Regions from separate parts of the Homo sapiens genome. Here region 2 is linked to region 1. The links come from fine-mapping of genetic effects on gene expression. Tissue or cell type: esophagus mucosa. Region 1 holds a variant in brackets; the other region holds the start of a gene. All regions are shown on one strand. Distances are between the middles of the regions. Region 1 overlaps SHROOM2 (shroom family member 2). Region 2 holds the start of GPR143 (G protein-coupled receptor 143).

What was found.
Region 2: it holds the start of GPR143, and the variant in region 1 is fine-mapped to the expression of GPR143 in esophagus mucosa (GTEx, PIP above 0.99).

The regions. Positions count from the first base shown.
Region 1 is chrX:9,789,656-9,801,566 of GRCh38, reverse strand. The region is part of intron 1 of SHROOM2 (shroom family member 2); the gene reads right to left. Among named protein-coding and RNA genes, the nearest start is that of SHROOM2, 9.2 kb to the right of the region's middle. RefSeq lists an enhancer at 8,016-8,539. The variant C/T (reference allele first, on the strand shown) is at 5,732.
Region 2 is chrX:9,761,054-9,772,964 of GRCh38, reverse strand. It overlaps GPR143 (G protein-coupled receptor 143), which reads left to right and starts at 7,118. Exons shown (of 9, transcript NM_000273.3): 1 at 7,118-7,397. The coding sequence starts at 7,148. RefSeq lists an enhancer at 7,711-8,212.

The DNA.
Region 1 (11,911 bases):
TCAGACTAAGTCTAAAATCCAGTGTATATTTTAATTTACAGTATATCTCAATTTGAACCAGCTACATTTCAACTGTTCAACAGTCACATATGACAAATGGCCACCATATTAGACAATGCAGGACTGAAGGATCAAGGTGGGTAACAGCAGAAGATGAGGCCAGGGAAAAGACAGATGCTAAAGCATGAAGAACTTTTCATACTCAGCTAAAGTGTTGGATACAGTTTGGTTGTGTCCCCACCCAAATCTCATCTTCAATTATAGCTCCCATAATTCCCATATGTTATGGGAGGGACCTGGTGGGAGATAATTGAATCATGGGGGCAGTTTCCCCCATACTGTTCTCATGGTAGTGAATAAGTCTCATGAGATCTGATGGTTTTATAAGGAGTTTTCCTTTTCACATGGCTCTCATTCTCTCTTGCCTGCTGCCATGTAAGACATCCTTCTGCTCTTCCTTGTTCTTCTGCCATGATGGTGAGGCCTCCCCAGCCACATGGAACTGTGAGTCCATTAAACCTCTTTCCTTTATAAATTACCCAGTCTCGGGTATGTCTGGCAGCGTGAGAACAGACTAATACAGTGTTACATGAAGAGTTACTGGCAAACGAGGGTGGAAAATAGGCAGGATCGATAAAACATAAAAAGCCTTCTAAGGTGGGAGGATTGCTTGAGGCCAGAGTTCAAGACCAGCCTGGGCAACACAGTGAGACTCTGTATCTACAAAAAATAAAAATAATTAACTGAGCATGGTGCCGCATGCCTGTAGTCCCAGCTATCTCGGAGGCTGAGGCAAGGGTTGGGGGTAGAATCACTTGCGCTCAGGAGATTGAGGTTACAGTGATTTATCATTACACCACTGCATACCACCCACTCCAGTGGGTGACAGAGATGAGAACCCCATCTCTATAAAATAAAAATAAAGTGGACAGACATGGTGGCTCATGCCTGTAATCTCAGCACTTTGGGAGGCTGAGGCGGGTGGATCACTTGAGGTCAGGAGTTCAAGACCAGCCTGGCCAACATGGTGAAACCCCATCTCTACTAAAAATACAAAAATTTGCCAGGCATGGTGCCAGGTGCCTGTAATCCCAGCTACTTGGGAGGCTGAGGCAAGAGAATCACTTGAACCTGGGAAGCGGAGGTTGCAGTGAGCCAAGATCACGCCACTGCACCCCAGCCTGGGTGACAGAGCATGACTCCATCTCAAATAATAATAATAATAATAATAATACATAAAATAAATAAGCCTTCTATACCTAGCTAAGGTGTCCCATGAGGAATTACTGAGGCTTTTCCAGCAAGAGCATGAGAAGTAGACCACTGTTTTGGCACACCGACTACTGGAGGTCTCAAGAGTCTGTCATGTGAAGAGGTGAGCAGCAGTATGCATGTTACAGACTACTGTGATTGCCCAGGCAGTCACTGGAGCAAACCACTGGAGGCAGTGACGCTGGGCATGAGAAGAAAGCAATGCACACCCCGTATTTAGGCTCCAAAGGATTGGTGATCAACTGGCTGTGGGAGGTTAAGGGGAGGAAGGCATCAGGGACGACTTCTAGATTTGGGGATAAACTGATGATCAAGATTAGAAATTCAGAATTAGAGAAGGTAAAGGAAGATGAATGATTCCCATTTGGATTGTGCTGAGTTTAAAGGGCCTCAGCAACACACAAGGGCCATCTCAGAGTTCAGACGAAAAGTTGATTTGGTAAAATGGTCATTGAAAATTAAAAAAAGAAGAGAAGTTGAGGCTGCACATATAGATATGAGCATTGTCTATAGGCACCATATATCACCATGTTTACAAATTTGCAAACAGATGCACGTTATCTCGAGGAAGCACATGAGACCACCTAGATGAGAGAGAGAGGACAGATAAAAGGACCTTCAAGAAATCCAACCTTCTAGTAGATGGCAAAGGAAAAGAACCAGTGTAAGCCACTGTAAAAATAGAAAGAAGGGGAAATAAAGAGTTTTCATAGGAATTGAACATTTTTTTCAGTGAAGCAATTACAACATGGGTAATTTAAAAATTAAAAATTCTTAATTAATGGTAATTAATTAATGGGTAATTTAAGAATTAAAAATTAAACTCTCAGGCCAGGCGTGGTGGCTCACACCTGTAATCCCAGCACTTTGGGAGGCTGAGGCAGGCAGATCACCTGAGGTCAGGAGTTCGAGACCAGCCTGGCCAACATGGCGAAACCCCATCTCCACTAAAAATACAAAAATTAGCCGGGCGCGGTGGCGCACCTGTAATCCCAGCTACTCAGGAGGTTAAGACACGAAAATTGCTTGAACCGGGGAGGCAAAGGTTGCAGTGAGCCAAGATCATGCCACAGCACTCCAGCCTGAGTGACAGAGCCAGACTCCATCTCAAAAAAAAAAAAAAAAAAAAAAAAAAAAGAATTAAACTCTCCGTAAAGGCAAACAAGTTCCTGCCTCAGGGTACAAGGAGGTGCATCCTCAGGAATTTTACCTTTGTGTTGAGATTTCACAACCATGAATAGTGGTACAAGTTTTAATTACTTGTCCCCAAAACACCAGCCACTAAAAATGAGGAGGGGGAGTGGAAATGGCTCCGTCCCAAACCCTAATGGCATCAGCATGTGAGAGCTCTGTCGTTAAATCAACACAAAATAAATATGATTGAAGCAGCAGCAGGCCTATCTTTTCAAGTCCAGATGTTTTCTTTCCAAACTTTAATTCAAGATTCAGGGCATCTAAACATAATGAAAATGTTAAGAAAAGCTGCACATACAAAAAAGCATAGTTGTTTGAAAGACTGACATATTTGACCAATATAAAGTACACTCCGTTTTCCAGAAATTAGGGTTTTTAAAAATATGCCTGTCTAGAAAAACCTAAATTATAAAAATATATTCCACAACAAAACATACCATTTCTTAAAACGTCAAGTGGCATACACACAATTAAACTCCTTTCATCTGATTCCAAAGATTGTTGACAATGTAATTCTTAAGGGTTTTCAAGCAATTAAAAATTAGATCTACGAGGTTCAAAGCAAAGAATTCCACAGAGATGGGGAAAAATCAATACAGCTGTACTTTCAGAAATAAGATTATTACATGTTTTGGGCTATGGATCAATCTTTTCCTTTATTTTCAATTTTTTTCATTTTAATTGTGCAACAAGAAAAAAGACACTGTACAAAGCATTATACAATTAGCAGAGATAAATATCACCATGTTTACAAATTTGCAAACAGATGCACAATTAACACCAATAGATGTGGAATTTCGTCAGCTTCAGAATCTGCAAGCCATAGGTAAAGAATCTCTTTCACCTCTTTTGCAAGTCCAGGGAGGGTTTTCAGCTGGACTTGGGCCCCTGCTCTCCCTACCAGCTTCCTCCACAGGCTGTCCTAACTCCTCTTTGTAGGCGGCCAGTACCTGAACAGACAAGGTCTTTCCTCAGCACTCCCACTCCGCCAGCTCCACCTTCCTCCCGAGGCCAGTTTTACTTGGCTTTCATCTGGCTTTCAACTTTATCTCTCCTCTCTTTGCTGGTCTAATTCATGTGTCTGGGTGCTACTACCAGGGGGAAAAAAGTCTGCCATACAGAACTATAATTAATTAATCTGATGAAGGCAGTTCTGTTAATGATGACAATGTGTAGCCCTCCCAGGCAACATTTGCATTTTAACCAAGGCAGTTAAAGAAAGGACACCACCACCAGGAGGAAGGTCCAATCCCTGAAATCATCCTAACAGCAGCTGGCCACCCACCCCACCCACTGTGCCTCCGGCCAGCCCCACCTAGGACTAATTATCTAGACTGGGCATTCTCCCGGCCTCCTGCCCCAATGCTCCAGGGCTCCCAGGAAATCATCCCCGGGGAGGAGAAGGAAGAGCAAGTGGGGGGTGGGGGTGAATAAATTACCAGCTGAGAGAAAAGGGTAAGGAGGTGGAAAGACGCCAATGGGCGTGGAGGTCTCATTTTATATAATAAGTGTGCAGGGAATAGGCTTCATGCTAATTGGACACCCACAGTGATGCTTTCCTCACTCCTTCCAGCATGGGTGTAAAAGAAGCACCGTATATTCCGCCTCTTAAAGCTGGGTATATTTGCTAGAAGGAAAACTTCTGATTTCTCCCAGCATTTCATTTGTGAGAATAGTCTGTTACAGCAAGTAATCCAAAAAACATACAATGAATGGCCCAAACACAGCAGAGGCTTACTTCTTGCTCACCATGGATGGTGACCATAGCATGGGCAGCCACCTCTGCAGTCATTCAGGGATCCACGCTGATGAACTCTGCCCTGCGGCCATCTTCATTCCAGGCAGCCAGAAGGGGAAAAGTAAAATGGCAGGCATGGCTGCAGCTGCACTCCCCAGGGTAGAAGCGTCAGGAGGCCACAGCTAACTGCTAGGGAGGCTGGGAAATGTGGCCCAACAGTGTCTGAGAGGAGGAGGCAACAAGGACTCGGGCAGGCAGCATTTCTGCCACACTTGTGGGTCCCACTCTAAACCCTAACAGATTTTCTACTCCAAAGATTGAAAGAGTGAAGAAATAGAGTCTTGTCACAGGGATACTGAATCTTCATCTTTCCCACTATTGCCACTTCCCAAAACTACTTTTTTAACACCCTACTCTGGCCCAGGAACAGTGGCTCACATCAGTAATCTCAGCACTTTCGGTAGCCATGGTGGGTAGATCACTTGAGCCCAAGAGTTCGAGACCACCCTGGGCAATATGGCGAAACCCTACCTCTACAGAAAATACAAAAAATTAGCCAGATGAGGTGGCATGTGCCTGTAGTCCTAATACTTGGGGGGCTGAGGTGGGAAGACTGCTTGAGCCCAGGTGACTGAGGTTGCAGTGAACCGTGATCACACCACCGCACTCCAGCCTGAATGACAGAACGAGACCCCATATCAAAACAAACAAAAAAACAAATAAAAACCCTACTCTGAATACCACATTGATCTGAAAGAGCTACTCCCTTTATTAATATTATAAAAATAAGAAACACTATTATTCTGGAAAAAAGTTTTTTGGTAGAGGAGAGGAAAGAATCACTTCTGGTGGGCTACAAATAACATAGGAAATGTACTGATGCTGGGCATTAGATGTATTTTTTATTTTATTTTTATTTTTTATTTATTTTTTGTTTTTGAGACAGAGTCTCACTCTGTCGCCCAGGCTGGAGTGCAGTGGTGTGATCTTGGCTCACTGCACCCTCAACCTCCTTGGCTCAAAGCGATCCTCCCACCTCAGCCTCCCAAGTAGCTGGGACTGGAGGTACATACCACCTTGCCTGGCTAATTTTTCTATTTGTTGTAGAGATGGGGTCTCATTTTGTTGCCCATGCTTGTCTTGACTTCCTGGGCTCAAGCAATCCTCCCACCTCGGCCTCCCAAAGTTCCAAATTCTTAATGAATCAGGATTGAGTAGGGAAAGTGAGGAAGAGAAGTGAGGGGGAATTTGAATTTACTAGAGATAGCTTTATGTGTTGCCTCATTTAATCCCCATGATACCACAATAAAATAGGAATGATTCTAGTTGGACAGACAGAGGATTACTGATTAGAAACGGTTAGGAACTGAGAGCAAGATCCAGCTCCGGATGCAAGCAAGCAAGCACTGCCTCCTCTGCCTAGTGGTAACCTTCCCTCCAAACTGGAACCACTACAGCCAAAGTTGGGGGGCAGAGATGATCACCCTCGCCCAGCTGAGCAAAGGAGAGATCCCCTCAACTGGCAGA[C/T]TTCCCATTACTTTTCAACCTGTACTACACCAGAAGTTTATTAAGTAGAAAAAAAGTATCTGACAAAAACATGGCCGCCTCCCTGCCCCTCCAGAAAAAAAAAAAGAGAAAGATACAGCCTTAGAGGAATACCCAGGGAAACAGCTTCACCTGATCACTCACCCCCATGCACGGAGTGTCCAAACAGCATTTTGGGGAACGCAACCTTCAATACCAGCAGACGGCCAAGGAGCACTAGACATTTGAAGACAACCTCTAACAGGGAAGAAAGCAGCCAAAACAAACAACAAAAGCAGAGCTCAGAAACAATCTATGCAAAAAGAGGACATTTTTAGAGACCAGTTTAATACTGTCACAGATATGGAAGAATCATGAAACAAGATCAGTATGGTATGAAAAAGGAACATTTGAGAAACAAATTTTAAAAGTTTAGAATCTGAGGGAAAAATGAGGACATACATTTAAAACTTAATGGAAAGATTAGAAGATGATGTTGAACAAAATCTTCCAGGAAGAACAAAAATACAAAGAAATGCAAAATAAGAGAGCTGGGCATAGTGGTACACACCTGTAAACCCAACTACTTGGGAGGCTGAGATGGGAGGATCAGTTAAGCACAGGAGTTCAAGGCTGTAGTGTGGCTATAACCGTGCCTGTGAATAGCCACGGCTCTCCAGCCAGAGCAACACAGCAAGACCCTGTCTCTTCAAAAAAAAAAGAAAGAAAGAAAGAAAGAAAAAGAAAAATGAGAGGGAAAAAGTAGACCTAGTACAAAAGATCAAGAAACAAAAACGTCTGATCTCCCTCCAGCAATACTGCACAACAGCAGAGTGGACACCACCTTCAGAGTGCTGTGGGAGAACTGTCTCCATTCAGGACTACGCCCAAACAATTTACTGTCAAGATAAAAATCATGCTGTTTTCAGACAGAGAAGATCTCAAAAGATGACCCCCGGTGTGTCTGAATATATTAAGAGATATTTCATCACTGGGGAGGGTTTGAGGGATGAATCAAGGATAAGTGCACTGAAAATTAAGCAAAGAAAACTATCCTGAACCCTAGTGACTGCAGAAACTTGTGTTGTGGGTACACTGGCTGGGGCCAGAGTCACGGGCAGTAAAAGAATTTACTGAGACAGTAGTCAGTTAAAGAAAAACTAGTTTATGGCTGGGCGCGGTGGCTCATGTCTGTAATCCCCAGCACTTTGGGAGGCTGAGGTGGGCGGATCACCCAAGGTTGGGATTTTGAGACCAGCCTGACCAACATGGAGAAACCCCATCTCTACTAAAAATACAAAATTAACCAGGCGTAGTGGCAGGCGCCTGTAATCCCAGCTACTCAGGAGGCTGAGGCAGAAGAATCACTTGAGCCTGGGAGGCGGAGGTTGCAGTGAGCCGAGATCTCGCCATTGCACTCCAGCCTGGGCAACAAGAGCGAAACTACATCTCAGAAAAAAGAAAAGAAGAGAAGAGAAGAGAAGAGAAGACTAATTTATTAGAGAAAAAGTATGTTGCAAGGGAGCAACAGGCAACACAGCAGAGAAGGGGTTGCAAAGAGGCAGGGGCTGGAGGGAAGTTTTATAGGATCATGCTGGAGAAGCTACACGCAGAGTTGTTTGTGGTTAGCAGTTTCTCAGAACAATTGTTCTCCCCCACCCTGGGGTCCCTTCTTCATTGATGCTAACTTATCAGGACTCCACAGTATGTACCCCCAGACTCAGCAGTGATAGCAATAGCAACCAAAATAAACACTGAATATTGGTAACCCCATGCTCCTCAGAGCGGGGAAGAGGCCAGCCTTAGTTGCTCACGCCTGTAATCTCAACATTTTGGGAGGCCAAGGTGGGAGGATCACTTGAGGCCATGAGTTCAGGATCAACCCAAGCAATACGGTGAAACCCCATCTCTACAAAAAATACAAAAATTAGCTGGGCATAGTGGCATGCACCTGTAGTCACAGCTACTCAGGAGGCTGAGGGGGAAGGATCACTTGAGTCCAGGAGATGGAGGCTGCAGTGAGCTGTGATCATGACACTGCACTCCAGCTTGAGCAAGAGAGCAAGACCCTGTCTAAAAAAAAAAAAAGAAAGGAAGAGGCTAGGTATGCTGCTCAAGATCCTACAATTCACAGGATGGCCCCACACCAAAAAATTATGATGTAATCACATTAGGGGTATGAAGGGCCAAGAATTGTGCCTGAGTAGTTGGGGGAGGGTAGATGAGCAATGAAAAAGAGTGGAAATAAGGGCCAGGCGCAGTGGCTCATGCCTGTAATCTCAGCACTTTGGGAGGCTGAGGTGGACAGATCACTTGAGGCCAAGAGTTTGAGACCAGCCTGGCCATCATGGCGAAACCCCATCTCTACTAAAAATATAAAAATTAGCTGGGCATGGTGGCTCGAGCCTGTAATCCCAGCTACTCGGGAGGGTGAGGTGGGAGGATCGCTTGAACCCCAGAGGTGGAGGTTGCAGTGAGCCGAGATCATGCCATTGCACTCTGGCCTGAGTGGCAGGACGAGACTTTCAAAAAAAAAAAAAGAGTGGAAAAAAGGCTACATCCTAATATCCTACATTGGGAAGAACAAGCTAATAAACAAAAGTTGCAGCAATATACAATATAAGCCATCATTTAGGGATATGGACAGAAATACCAAAAGAAATCAGCTAAGACGTTTTGATAGTTGTCTCTAGGGAGGGGGAAGTGATCAGTAGTCAGGCCAAATGACCAGTAGCATATAAGCACCCTTGAAGAACTACTTGATAATTCATACTGTGCAAGAGCCACTTTGATAAAATAAAACCTCATAAAAGATACACTGACACTCCTAGCGTGTCACGATGGCTCATGCCTATAATCCCAGCACTTTGGGAGGCCAAGGCGGGTGGTTCACTTGAGGTCAGGAGTTAGAGACCAGCCTGGCTACCATGGTGAAACCCTGTCTCTACTAAAAATACAAAAATTAGCAGGGCGTGGTGGTGTGCGCCTGTAACGCCAGGCTGAGGTGGGAGGATTGCTTGAACCCCAGAGGCGGAGGTTGCAGTGAGCCAAGATCATGCCACTGCACTCCAGTGTGGGAGACAGAGCAAGAATCTGTCTTAAAAAAAAAAAAATACGCTATCATGCTTGCCCCTTCCCTTCTATGAGTAAGAAGTGTTACCTTTCAAGGACACAGAGTCTACCCTGCCTGGGTTCTTGTTGACCTCAACAATTTGCCTTTGATCTGAAAGTCACCTTTTGCCAAAAGAAAGATAATCCCAGCCCTTCCTAGCCAAGCCAAGATGCTGTTTTTCTTCCCTTTCCATCCAAAAGAAGCAGCCCTCATTGCCTGCAACTTAATACGCTGGGGATTTAAAACAACAACAACAACAAAAAAAAAAACAACACAAAAAAACAGCCCAGGGGCTCCTTATCTGGGGAAAAAAATGTTACCTTTGCTTTGCAATTCAGAACATCCTAGTTCTAAGGTTCAACCAAATGAGGTTTGTCCAATTTTTTCTTTTTAATGATATAGTATTATCCTTCTAAGACATGTTCCCCCAAAGAGAAGCTGGAACATTCACACCCATAATGGGAACAGGCTGGCTCTACTACAGGACAGCCCAAATACTGCATCACACAAGGTAAAGGACAACAATTCCTCCAGAATACACCCTCCCTGTATCAGATACTGGTGATTATTCTATTCTATTCTATTCTATTCTATTCTATTCTATTCTATTCTATTCTATTCTATTCTATTCTATTCTATTCTATTCTATTCTATTCTATTCTATTCTATTCTATTCTATTCTATTCTATTCTATTCTATTCTATTCTATTCTATTCTATTCTATTCTATTCTATTCTATTCTATTCTATTCTATTCTCGAGATGGAGTTTTGCTCCTGTTGCCCAGGGCAATGGCACGATCTCCAGCTCACCACAACCTCTGCCTCCCGGGAGCCTCCCGAGTAGCTGGAATTACAGGCATGCACCACCACACCCGGCTAATTTTTTTGTATTTTTAGTAGAGACAGGGTTTCTCCATGTTGGTCAGGCTGGTCCTGAACTCCCGACCTCAGGTGATTCACTCGCCTCGGCCTCCCAAAGTGCTGGGATTACAGGCGTGAGCCACCGTGCCTGGCACTGGTGATATTTTTTTAAAGGCCTAAAAGAGCAACAGGCAACCCAGAACTCTTTCAAAATCCTTCATGTGGGTTAAAGTTTTCGGCTTGCATGTGTAGGAAGAGGGCTTGCAGAAACCTGCAGAATTTATCCTTCATGAATTGCCCCACTGCTGACTACAGTGCTTGAAAGTAAAAGAAGACCTGAATAAAAAGTCCATTCAGCTTTTACATTCTAACATTATCGTGTAGAATGTTTCCGCTGCACCCGGTGTGCAAGAAGAAAAGTTCCACAGAGCCCCAGCTTTTCTCCACTGCCCTTAAGAACTTGGCCACAAATCCAGGTTTATTTGCATGCTGATACAAAACAACTCTGGCAAGGGGACAAACAACTCCAAAATGCTTTCCAAAGAGAAAAACCAGCCCTTCCCAAGTGGCAAGCCAGTTTTTTTGACCATGAATTACAAAGGTAGATTAAGAAACCCCCAGCTCATTAGGACAAGGTGAAAACTGCTACTTGTTCTGAGCCTTTCATTATCATACTATTCTACCTTTAGCTCTTGGGCAAACTAGTTTTCTTTTCTTTTTTTTTTTCAAAAGATAAATGTTACGACATGTTAAGAAATACTCATAACTGAGCCATGAAGACCGAACGCATCCTGGTACAGAAGTGAGATGCATAGCTTATGTTTACAGCTTCTCATAATCGCAGAAGGCTCTGGATTCATAGGCGTGAGTCAAGCTGAGTTAATGTCTAAGAGAGGAAGAATCCTCCCAGAGCTGACCCTCAAAGCCTCCAGCTCCCAGACCCTGGAATAGGACTTGAGGCTCACTGCCTGACTCCACACTCTTGCCCAAAACATCGCCGGAGAACAAGGATGAGAATTCAGCAGGGTCACATTAATTCACAGGCTGGGAAAAGGTAATAAAGATAGACTTGAAAGCCAGTTGGCAAGGCGGGCCTACCAACTGAAAGGGTCTTTCAGCACAGGAAAGAAAGCTCACCTCTTGGTTTTTAACCTTACTATTAATTCTTAAATACAGATGGATCTTTATAATGACACTTATCCTAATAGCTGAAGAAAACATGGTAGCTGGCATCAAAAAGTGAGTAAAGCTTTACAACTCGGACATCACTTAGAGATGGCAGAGGCAAGGGAGATCCAAGCCCTCACCCACTGGTTCTCAGACACCTGGAGAAGCAGCAGCACTCCCTCGTGCAGATGTTGACCGCACACTGCATCTGGGCACAAAAATCCACCAGCAGCCACAAAGTTGAGAGTCACCCGCTCCTGACCCACTGCTGAATTCATCAGGTCCCTCTTTTTCAAAACCTTTACTGATATTTCACAAAGAGCTTGGTTGGCTCTTGGGAGCCAATATAATGGCATATGAGACAAGAACTGATCCCGACCAGGGTGGTCACTCTGATCTCCCCGGTCCTCGGGTCACGAGGTGACTTGGCATGGCCCATAATGCAGAGCCCCCTTTCCAAACCAATAAGTAAGGTACATCAGAGGCGCGGGGCCTCCACTCCTGCCCATCACCAACCACCAGTCTCAGCCCTGTGCCCTCTGCAATCAAGGACTCAGCTAACACTTTACATAAGACACTTGCCACCTGGCTGCACGCCCCCCAAAATATGCCCTGATTCCGTCTTTGGCATTCACACTGGAAAGGACATTTCAAAGCTCTGTCTCCAATCCAGAGAAATGTTCTCAGAGTCTGAAGCCCTGGGGTGGGTGAGTCAGGTGGGGGGGACCTCCAAGCGTCCCAGACCACAGCAGTCTTGTCGCACACAACAGCTCTGGTGCCCAATGGCAACCCGAAAATCAATGGGTTCCCAAAGGAGCTGCCCTTGGGGCTAGGCCAGGCCCAAGTTACTGTCTTCTTTGGAGCTTCGGGCTAAGGCTTCTGGCATTCTTTTTGGGGGAGGGAGCGGACTCTAAGAAATAGTGAACAGGAGAGGCTGGGGCTTCATTCCTTCCCTCCCTTAACAAACATTCCTGAGGCCACAGGGGGCTGCTGACACCCAGCTGGTGTATTTAACGCTTCCTCATGAATCCCCCAAACAGCT
Region 2 (11,911 bases), 29 kb after region 1:
TCATATCTGTCTTGTTTCCTTTTCTTTCTACTTGCTGTTTATTCCATCACAAATGCCAGTTTCAACTCTGAGCTATATGAAAATTGTTACTTTTGGCATATTTACTCCATCAGACTGTTATCAATGTCTTTTTTTTTTTTTTTTTTTTTTTGAGACAGGATCTTGCTCTGTTACCCAGGCTGGAGTGCAGTGACACTATCACGGCTCACTGCAGCCTCAACCCTGGAGGCTCAAGCAATCCTCCCGCCTCAGCCCCCAACAGCAGCTGGGACCACAGGTGCATGCCACCACACCTGGCTAATTTTTTTGAATTTTAGTAGAGATGAGGTCTCACTATATGTTGTCCAAGGCTGGTCTTGGACTCCTGAGCTCAAGCAATCCTCCCACCTCAGCCTCCCAAAGGCATAAGCCACTGCGCCCAGGTCAGTTGTTCTTTTTGAAATAGACGTGTTCTGCCAAATTTAATTGTGAATTGAAAATTGAATCACTGTGAAGCAAACCCTGTTTTACTTTCCATTTTCACCTTGTTCTCACAGTTAACAACTGACTAGTTGACTTTTACGGAGAAAGCATTTAAAATGGAGTGTGATGAGTTAGGAGGTTAGCCATGGATAGGTCCATGGGAGGGCAATGTGCTACTCACTTGGGCAAGAGCTTCTCCTGGGAGTTTATCACAATACTGGCTTCCTATTTTAACAGACCAGGATGGAAATGCTCCCTTAAGTTTCAATAGGAGAAAATTGTCAGGACATCCTATTTTTCAACACAAATCGCGTATTTGCCTCTCTCAGTCCTTATCTGTTGTCTTCCTCTTCCCTTTCTTTTCCTCCCTGCGTCCTGACTTCTGTCCCAGGTTAGTCCCAAACACATCAGAATCCAAGAGGAAGGACATTGCTCACCATTCTCCGACTAATGATTCCCTCCTTGACTCATCCACTGTGTTGAGAATGCTCCAGCCGGGCGCGGTGGCTCATGCCTGTAATCCCAGCACTTTGGGAGGCCAAGGTGGGTGGATCACCTGAGATCAGGAGTTCAAGACCAGCCTGGCTAACATGGTGAAACCCTACCTCTACTAAAAATACCAAAGTTAGCCAGGGGTGGTGGCACGCATCTGTAATCCCAGCTACTCAAGAGCTGAGGCAGGAGAATCGCTTCAACCTGGGAGGCGGAGGTTGCAGTGAGCCAAGATCACACCACTCTATTGCCACAGCCTGGGCAACAGAGCAAGACTCCATCCAAAAAAAAAAAAAAAAGAGAGAGAATGCTCCATGGCTTAGTTGGATGCTAATCAATTTTACTGCATCTATTTTGAACCAAGTCCTCCATAAATTCAAATATGGCCTGGGAGTTTTCTTTGCTTTTCAGGATAAGATACAAGCTCTAGGGTCTTGGCACTCAAAGTAGGAGCCATAGGTCAGCAGCAGCCATGTCTCCTTGGAGAATGTAAGAAATGCAGAGTCTTGGGCCCCACCCCCAGAAACCCTGAATCAGGATTTGCCTTTCCACAAGATCTGCACGCGAATGCACAGTAAAGTTGAACTAGTACCATTCTCAGGCCTGATGCCACTTCACATGTCTCCCTATTTAAAAAAATGTACAATTTGGTCTGGGTGAGGTGACTCAGGCCTGTAATTTCGGCACTCTGGGAGGCCAAGGTGAAAGGATGGCTTGAGACCAGGAATTCGAGACCAGCCTGGGCAACATAGCAAGACCTCATTTCTACAACATTTTTTTTTTAATTAGCCAGACATGATGGTGTATGCCTGTGGTCCCAGCTACTCAGGAGGCTGAGGCGGGAGGACTGCACCACCATGCCTGGCTAGTTTTTGTATTTTCAGTAGAGAAGGGGTTTCTTCATGTTGGCCAAGCTGGTCCTGAACTCCTGACCTCAGGCAATCTGCCCACCTTGGCCTCCCAAAGTGCTGGGATCACAGGCATGAGCCACCGCACCTGGCCTGTGTTCTTCATTAAGGTCTGGTGACACTACCTTATTTATTGGACACAGAATCTATACCATTGCTCAATCAACTTGCGTATGTTACTCATAAACTCCTGTTGAATTGCACTTAAATGAAAGGCAAAGATGCTGTTGGTCATCTGGTGGACCCAAAAGAGGGCTGTGGCTGGAGCAGCTGAAATCCTTTCTCAGGAAGAGCAGCTATCTGAGCACAGAGTTTAAGGCACATTGTGTGTCTATAAGGACTCTAGGAGTGAGCACAAAAGCAGGGTGAGGCAAGGAAGGAAGAAAGCAAATTAAGAGCAGTGCCATTCATGAACTGGCCACAAGATTCCCAAGAAACCCAGCTGGTTACACAGGAACATATGAAACCACTCCTCAGAAACCTCCCTAGGAAGGAAGGGTGAGCAATACATCTGCCAGTGACTTCCTGCTTCCTCTCTCATTGGAATAAGTTTGTCTGCCCCACTAAGTGTTAATCCTCCTCCATTTCTCGGTTGTTGCCCAGCCTTTCAAGCAGCTGCTAGATAAGCCAGAGCCTCAGGTGGTAGACTTACAGGAACTGCAGCCTATGGCCCTTTGCCTGTTTTGTAAATAAAGTTTTATTGGCACACAGCCATACCCATGGACTTATGTATTGGCTGGTCTTCCTCTCTCTCTCTCTCTCTCTCTCTCTCTCTCTCTTTTTCTTTCTTTCTTTCTCCTGTTCTTGCTCTGTCGCCCAGGCTGGAGTGTAGTGAACTCCTGACCTCAGGTGATCTGCCCGCCTCAGCCTCCCAAAGTGCTAGGATTACAGGTGTGAGCCACTGAGCCCGGCTTTTTTTTTTTTTTTTTTTTTTTTTTTTTTGACTGGGGGAGGTGGGGGACAGGGTCTCCCTATGTTGCCCCAGGCTGGTCTTGAACTCCTGGGCTCAAACAATGCTCCCACCTTGGCCTCCCAAAGTACTGGGATTACAGACATAAGCCACTGCACCTGGCCATGTTTTGTCTATATCAATTTAAGTATCAGTAAAACCCACTTGGAAGGCTCATTCTGAATATTAAATGAGATAATGAATGTAATATTCAAAGCATAGTGCCTGCCTACACTCCATAAATTATTTTATTATTTAAATCTTATTTATTAGGCTGGGCGCAGTGACTCACGCCTGCAATCCCCGCACTTTGGGAGGCTGAGGCGGGCGGATCACCTGAGGTCAGGAGTTCGAGACCAGCCTGGACAACTTGGCAAAACGCCGTCTGTACTCTAAATACAAAAAATAGCCAGGTGTGGTGGCAGGCGCCTGTAATCCCAGCTACTTGGGAGCCTGAGGCAGGAGAATCACTTGAACCCGGGAGGCAGAGGTTGCAGTGAGCTGAGATCGCACCACTGCACTCCAGCCTGGATGATATAGTGAGACTCCATGTCAATAAATAAATAAACAAATCTTATTTATTATTTAAATTCAAATTATTGTGAATGGCAGTCTCCTTACTTAGGCTGTTTCTGCCATCCATCTGCCCCTAGCCACCTCCTCTACTGGATTCTAAGGGATATCTGAGTCTCACCATAAACCCCATTCTTTTGGTTGAGACATCTCGATGTCAGGGGACTCACCATGAAAAATAAACTGCCTGGGAGAGAAACTCAGGAACCGTCTTCCAGCAGTTGATCAAGTGCATCTGATCAAGTGGGAATGGTGGGTAAATGGTGGATTGTGGAATGAGAGAAAGCCAAGATGATGGAGCATTTCCAGGGAACAGATGCCCCAGGCAGCCCAAACTGTGAAAATGGAGAGCGAATTCAGGTGCTAAACTGGGAAGGAGGGAAAAACGGAGGAAGGGTTCATGCAAAAACAGATGTACCTTCATGTACTCAAAGACCGATTGTTTCTGCACACATACCTCAAAGTTCATATTCAGCACCGCCATCCCTGTATCTCCCATATCTACGAAACTTCCAGATGTTTCTGCCTCCCAAGTGTGTGCGTGTGTATTTGCTTCACTTTTCTCAGATTTGTAGTTGTACTGTTTCATGAAAAGTTTTGTCAGGCCAGGCATGATGGCTCATGCCTGTAATCCCAGCACTTTGAGAGGCCAAAGCGGGTGGATCACTTGAGGCCAGGAGTTCAAGACCAGCCTGGCCAACATGACGAAACCTATCTCTACTAAAAAGACAAAAAATTAGCTGAGTGTGATGGCATGTGCCTGTGGTCCCAGCTGCTCAGGAGGCTGAGGCATGAGAATCACTTGAACCCAGGAGGCAGAGATTGCAGTGAGCTGAGATCACGCCACTGCACTCCAGCCTGGGCAATGGAGCAAGACTCTGTCTCAAAGGAAAAAAAAAAAAAAAGTTTGTCATCTCAGTTCACCCAAGCTGGAGTTTGGTGGTGCAATCACAGCTCACTGCAACCTCAAACTCCTGGGCTCAAGTGATCCTCCCACCTCATCCTCCCCAGTAGCTGCAACTACAGGTGCGCAGCAGCACGCTCTGCTAATTTGAGATGTGTCGTCTTCCTCTAGGGACAGCAGGACTGGCCTTCCCTTGGGACCCCACAGAAGGCAGGCAGGAGGCTCCACTGCCAGACAGGAAGCAGAGCCTTATTTAACAACAATGAGCTGCAAACTCCACCACTTCAAAAGATGCTGCTCCTAGAGGAAGACGCTAGAGATGGGCTCTCACTATGTTGCCCAGGATGGTCTCAAACTCTTGGGCTCAAGTAATCCTCCTGCCTCAGCCTCCTTAAGTGCTGAGATTACAGGTGTGAGCCACTGGGCCCAGCCTCTCATACCAATTTCTAGTTCCCTCTCACTTTGATGACAGGGTTTTAAATTTAGTCTTACACTCATGCTTCTGCACCTTTACTCTGAGGCTCATCTTTACCATTGTCATCTGTGCCATGGCCCTAGGAATCTGCATTCATATCCATTTTCTCACTGATGAGATTCTGACTACTGAGCTTGAGTAGTGGGCACCAGAGTCAGCCAGAGCCCCCTGGAGAGTACTCCCAGGTTATCACGTAGGAAGCAGAGAGGCGGAGTGTGTTTTCTGGGGCATGAAACAGTGACTCAAATGCAGGGACCCCTTTGCCTGGCCCACTGGCCCTCAACCTTCAGGCAAATGTACAGACACTCTTCATTTTTATCTTTTAAAGCACTTTCCATTACACTAACCTCCAGAAGCAACTCTGCTTACCAAGGCAGAAGGAAAGAGAGCCACTGTCCAAATTAGATATTAGAATTCAAGCTTTTAAACATTAATGCTTGGGGAGTAGTTCTATGGTGCTTCTGACTGTTTTTACAATGGAGTGTGTAATCCAGCAGAGCTGTTAAGCTTTCTGAAGATGTCAGTCTGTTCTGACTTCTAGGAAGGCAGCTGTGGAGTGAACAGGCTGCGTTTATAGACGTGCCAGATCTGGACTCTTTTGAAGTGGTGGAGTTTGCACCTCATTGTTGTTAAATAAGGCTCCGCTTCCTGTCTGGCAGTGGAGCCTCCCGCCTGCCTTCTGTGGGGTCCCAAGGGAAGGCCAGTCCTGCTATCCCTAGAGGAAGACGGCACAGATCATGCCTTCCTTAAAACCGCAAAGCTGGTGGGGAGAACAAGTGAGGAAAGTCCATGAACACAATGGGGACACCTGCACCTTGGTTGCTTGAAAAAAACCCAGAGAGGGGCCCATTTTACCAGGAGAGAGGAGGAAGGGTGTCTCTTGTGTGGTCACAAAGAGCCAATGAGGTTTGTTGAAGATGATAAATATGATGGAGCTGGATTTTTTTTTCTTTTCTTTTTTTAAAATAAAGGCCATAATCTAGAAGGAGCACTTCTATTTTCAGCCTTGAAGAACTTAAAAAAAAAAATCTTAGTATGCTTACTGTAATCATTAACACAATATTACTTGGAAACTTACATGTATAGAATAAAGCAAGATTTTCAATGTATGAGAAAACATAGAAAAATTAACGCAGTTAAGAAAAATCCAAATAAATAGAACTGAAAGTTAAGGTGCAAAATGTGTCTGTGTGTACTTATGCTGAGTACTTTTCCCTTTATTTTTTTAATGTTTTTAAATTTTAAACTTAATTCTGTGTGTGTGTGTGTGTGTGTGTGTGTGTGTGTGTGTGTGTGTGAGAGAGAGAGATAGGGTCTCACTCCATTGCTCAGGCTGGAGTGCAGTGGTGTAATCTCTGCTCACTGCAACCTCCACTTGCCGGGCTCAAGTGATCCTCCCACCTCAGCCTCCCCAGAAGCTAGGGCTACAAGCACGCCCCACCACATCCAGCTAATTTTTGTTTTGTTTCGTTTTTTGATACAAGGTCTGGCTCTATCGCTCAGGCTGGAGTGCAGTGGCACTATCTTGGCTCACTGCAAACTCCACCTCCTGGGCTCAAGCGATCCTCCCACCTCAGCCTGCCGAGTAGCTTGGATCACAGGCCTGGGCCACCACACCGGGCTAATGTTTGTATTTTTAATAGAGGTGGGGTTTCGCCATGTTGCCCACGCTGGTCTCCAACTCTTGAGCTCAAGCGATCTGCCTGCCTCGGCCTCCCAAGGTGCTGGGATTACAGGTGTGAGCTACTGCTCTTTCTTTAACATTGATCTGTTTGTTTCATTCATTAATTGTAAACGAAAATCCTGCCTCTGTGGGATTATATCCATGAATGAGAGAGGCCATAAAAAAAAGCACTAATTGGACAACCATCTCTACTTAGGAAAAAAGCAGTTACAGGGATCAGTCACAGTTTATGAACATGTTCTGGCGCCTTAAAGGCATCAAAATCAGGATGTCAGAGTCCCAAATAGGAAAGATCTAGTCCACGAGGCCTGTTTCTCTAGAAGACCAGTAAAGATGGCAGGTTTGGCGCTCTAGGTGGCAGAGAAACCACCAGGAAGGCTTGGTGAATGGGGAGAAAGGTAACCTTCCCAACCTTTCTGCTTCTCCTTCCACTTCCCTCCTCCTCCTCCCTCTTCCTCTCCTCTCAGCCCTCCCTCTCTCTGTCCTCCTCCTCCGCCCGCCCAAGCATCACCTCGTGAGGCCTCGTGGCGTTAGCCCAGTGCTCTCGGCCCCCACCGAGCCTGGCTCTACTGCAGGCGCTGGGGGTTGGGGTGGGGGAGAGGCCCAGGGCACATGATGCCGCCCCCAGCCCGCCCAGCACATGACCCAGGCAGGCCGGCGGGGTCCTGGCACACCCGAGCCGCGTCCGCGAACACAGCCCATGGCCTCCCCGCGCCTAGGGACCTTCTGCTGCCCCACGCGGGACGCAGCCACGCAGCTCGTGCTGAGCTTCCAGCCGCGGGCCTTCCACGCGCTCTGCCTGGGCAGCGGCGGGCTCCGCTTGGCGCTGGGCCTTCTGCAGCTGCTGCCCGGCCGCCGGCCCGCGGGCCCCGGGTCCCCCGCGACGTCCCCGCCGGCCTCGGTCCGCATCCTGCGCGCTGCCGCTGCCTGCGACCTTCTCGGCTGCCTGGGTAAGGGCGCGCGCGGCCCGCGGGTTGGAATCTGATCAGCGCCTGGGTGAGGGCGCGTGGCCCGCAGGTTGAGACCCGACTGGTGCCCGGATAAGGGCGCACGGCCTGTGGATTTGGACCTGTTCCGTGATGGAGTGAGGACGAGAGGCCCGCGGGTTGGAACCTGCCCGGTGCAGGGCTGAGGGCGCGTAGCTGGCTGGTTGGGACCTGCTCGGTCCCCGGCTGAGGGCTTGAGGCCCGCGGGTTGGGACCTGCTCAGTGCTGGGGTGAGGGCGTGAGGCCCTGGGGTTGGGACCTGCTCAATCCCCGGGTGAGAGTGCGTGGCCCGCAGGTTGAGACCGGATCGATGCCCGGGTGAGGGCGCATGGCCCGCAGGTTGGAACTCGATCCACTCGGGTTGGAACTTGATCGGTGCCCGGGTGATGGCGCACGGCTAGCGGGTTGGGCTGGCCGTCTTAACACTTGAACCACAGAGAAAAGAGAAAGCGGAGGCTGTTCCCTAGGGACCGGATGGGACAACTAGGTAATTTTTTTTTTTTTTTTTGAGACGGAGTCTTGCTCTGTCGCCCAGACTGAAGTGCAGTGGCGCAATCTCGGCTCACTGCAACCTCCACCTCCCGGGTTCAAGGGATTCTCTTGCCTCAGCCTCCCGAGTAGCTGGGGGAGGCGCGCGCCACCATGCCCGACTAATTTTTGTATTTTTAGTAGAGACGGAGTTTCACCATGTTGGCCAGGCTGCTCTCGAACTCCTGACCTCAGGTAATCCACCCGCCTCGGCCTCCCAAAGTGCTGGGATTACAGGCGTAAGCCACCGCGCCCGGCCGACTAGGTAGTTTTGCAAACACATGGTCGGTAAAATTCCCATCCAAGGGACGTTGGGTTTTAAAAAATCCGTTTATTGTGTTTGTTATATGGAAACTTCAGATGGCGCAGTTAAGCAAAACCCAGACCAGAAAAGATTTCCTCATTTTTGCCCAACTGCACCAGGGAGAGACTAACAATTAACTTCTCTCTGTCTCGCTCTGTGTGTGTGTGTGTGTGTGTGTGTGTGTGTGTGTGTGTGCGCGTGTGTAAATTCTTTTCTATTGTGCACTATATATTCTCTCGAGTATTTTGTAAGCTGAAATCCCTTCCCTATCCAGGCTTTTTGGGTATGGTTTTTACACCACAGGTGCGCAAACTGCAGCCCTCAGACCAAATCCTGCCCGTTTTCTAGGGTCCACGAGCTAAGAATGGTTTTACATCCTACTTTTTAAAAAATTAATGATTTTGTTTTTTGAGACAGGGTCTCACCCTCTTGCCCAGGTTGAGTGCAGTGTCACAATCACAGCTCACTGCAGCCTCGACCTCCTGGGTTCAAGCGATCCTCCCACCTCAGCTACCCGAGTAGCTGGGACTACAGCCACACGCCACCATGCTAGGGTAAATATATGTGGGGTCTCACTATGTTGCCCAGGCTGGTCTCCAACTCCTGGGCTTAATTAAAAGATCACCACCCTTGGCATCGTAAAGTGTTAGGATTACAGGCGTGAGCCACCTCACCCAGCCCTAAAATGTTTTTAAAAATCAAAATTAAAAAATATTTCCTGGCATGTGACTATTACTGAAATTTAAATGTTAATGTCTACAAATAAAGTTTGATGGGAACGCAGCTATGTTGTTCATGTGCATTTGTGAATTATTCATGGCTGCCTTTACCCTACAAGGGCAGGGTGAATATTGGACTGAGAAAGTATGGCTCCCAAAGCCAAAAATATTAAGAATGAGTTTGCCAACATCTGCTTTAAACTATTATGTGACACTTTATACAGACCTCTCAGCTAGATTTGGCCATTCTGTTTAGCTTTTTGGAACATTTCCACCATGCGTAAATGCAGTCTATAATAGAAACACTTACAGTGAATCCCTGTACGTGGGATTCGTGAGGTACGGGTACCCGGCTCATCTGCTCCCCTCTTCACCCTCCTCACTGGATTAATGTGAAGCCAATCTCAGGCTCCATCATCCTGCCCATTCAGATCTCAGAGAGAGCCCTAAAACATAATAATTCTAAACATTTGCAACCCCAATATCATTATCACTTTATTTTTGAGACAGGGTCTCACTCTGTTGCCCAGGTTGGAGTGTGCTGGCATGATCATAGCTCACTGCAGCCTCGAACTTCTAGGCTCAAGGGATCCTCCTACCTCAGCCTCCTGAGCAGCTGGAACTACAGGCATGCATCACCACACTGGCTAATTTTTGCATTATTTTTTCAGAGCTGGAGTCTCACCATCTTGCCCAGGCTGGTCAAACTTCTAGGCTCAAGCGATCCTCCTACTTCGGCCTCCTAAAGGTGCGGTGGCTCACGCCTGTAATCCTAACTACTCAGGAGGCTGTGGTGGACGGATTGCTTGAACCCAGGAGTTCAAGACTAGCCTGGGCAACGTAACGAGACCCAGGCTCTACCCCCAAGAAAAAAAAAACAACAAAAAAAAGGCCCGTCATGGTGGGATGCACATGTGGTCCCAGCTACTCACCAGGCTGAGGCAGGAGGACCATTTGAGCCCAGGAATTCCAGGCTAGAGTGAGCTACGATCCAGCCTGGGTGACAGCCAAGACCCTGTCTCTAAAAAAGTAAGGTGTACCCAAACATCTTTTGAGGGTTAGTGAATAATACTTGCATATCCTTTAGCCTTTAGAAGGGAAGTGGATGAGGTTGCGAGCAAATAAGCAGAAGTCAGGAAAAGGCTGGGTGATCGGGACCCCTTACTGAAAAATAAGAAATTTCAATGCCCATGGGATAGGGCTTTTATTAAGCTCAAAGGAGTGATAAATGCTGAAAATTCTAAGGCACCGTACAGAAGAAAGGCATTGTTTTTGTTGGCAGTGGCTTGATAATGAGAAGATGTCTTGAGCTTTTTAGTGTTCACAGTTGTCGTTTAGTAGTGTATTACATAGTGTGTGTTTAGTGGTATATTACATGGTATGTGTTTAGTAGTATATTACGTAGCATTTGTTTAGTGGTGTATCGCATGGTGTGTGTTGCATATTATATGGTGTGATTTTAGTAGTGTATTGCACAGTGTGTGTTTAGTGGTGTATGGCATGTTTACCAGTGAGCACTACTACATAGTATGTAGCTTGGTGTTGTTTACAGTTCTCCCCTTTATATTACCTAGCATACTTTTTTTTTTCTCAGATGGAGTCTCACTCTGTCGCCCAGGCTGGAGTGCAGTGGTACAGTCTTGGCTCACTGCAACCTCCACCTCCCAGGTTCAAGCGATTCTTGTGCCTCAGCCTCCTGAGCAGCTGGGATTATAGGTGCCCACCACCGTGCCTGGCTAATTTTTGTATTTTTAGTAGAGATGTGGTTTCCCCATGTTGGCTAGGCTGGTCTTAAACTCCTGACCTCAGGTGATCCACCCACCTCAGCCTCCCAAAGTGCTGGGATTACAGGCGTGAGCCACCATGCCAGGCTCTTTACTTTTCTTTTCTTTTTGACACAGGGTCTCACTCTGTCGCCCAGGCTGGAGTACAGTGGTGCGATCTCGACTCACTGCAACCTCCGCCTTCCGGGCTCAAGCGATTCTCCCACCTCAGCCTCCTGAGTAGCTGGGACCACAGGCGCGTGCCACCACCTCCAGCTAATTATTGTATTTTTGTAGAGATGGGGTTTTGCCAGGCTGGTGTCATCTCCTGGGCTCAAGTGATCCGCCGGCCTTGGCCTCCCAAAGTGCTGGGATTACAGGCGTGAGCACCGCGCTCAGACCCTAGTGTACTTTTAAACAACGGATATTGCATTACCTAACAAAGAACCATAATATGTACCATGAGTGTGCATACTGTTTTGAGGATATTAGACATTTGGGTCTAATAGCAAGAGAAACTCACAAAGAATAAATGTTAAAGGCAAATTATTGAGAATTAATTTGTGAAAATTTTAAATGTTGTGTTTAAAAAAGAATGAAGGAACTATATATTCAAACTTCTAAATTGTGCTTTTTGAAAAATTCTTTTTTATGTGAGGAATAACTAATATGGCCACTGAAAATGCAGCCGAGAAATCCAGATTGCTAGTCACATATTGCAAGTAAACCAACAGACAAACAAAATAGGGATGAGACTGTGGCCAACTATGGTTTGCGTTAAAGTGCCTGCGTTTGTTTTGCTACCATAAGTTATTTTCTGAGTTTCAGGCCAGGCGCGGTGGCTCACGCCTGTCATCCCACTTTGGGAGACCAAGGCGGACAGATCACTTGAGGTCAGGAGTTTGAGACCAGCCTGGCCAACATGGTGATACCCCGTCTCTACTAAAAATACAAAAATTAGCTGGGCGTGGTTGTGGGTGCCTGTAATCCCAGCCACTCGGGAGGCTGAGGCAGGAGAATTACTTAAACCTGGGAGGCGGAATTTGCAGTGAGCAGGGTTTTTACCACTGTACTGCAGCCTGGGTGACAGAGCCAGACTCCGTCTCAAAAAAAAAGATAAATAAAAAATAAAAATAAAAAAAAGTTATTTTATGAGTTTCAATC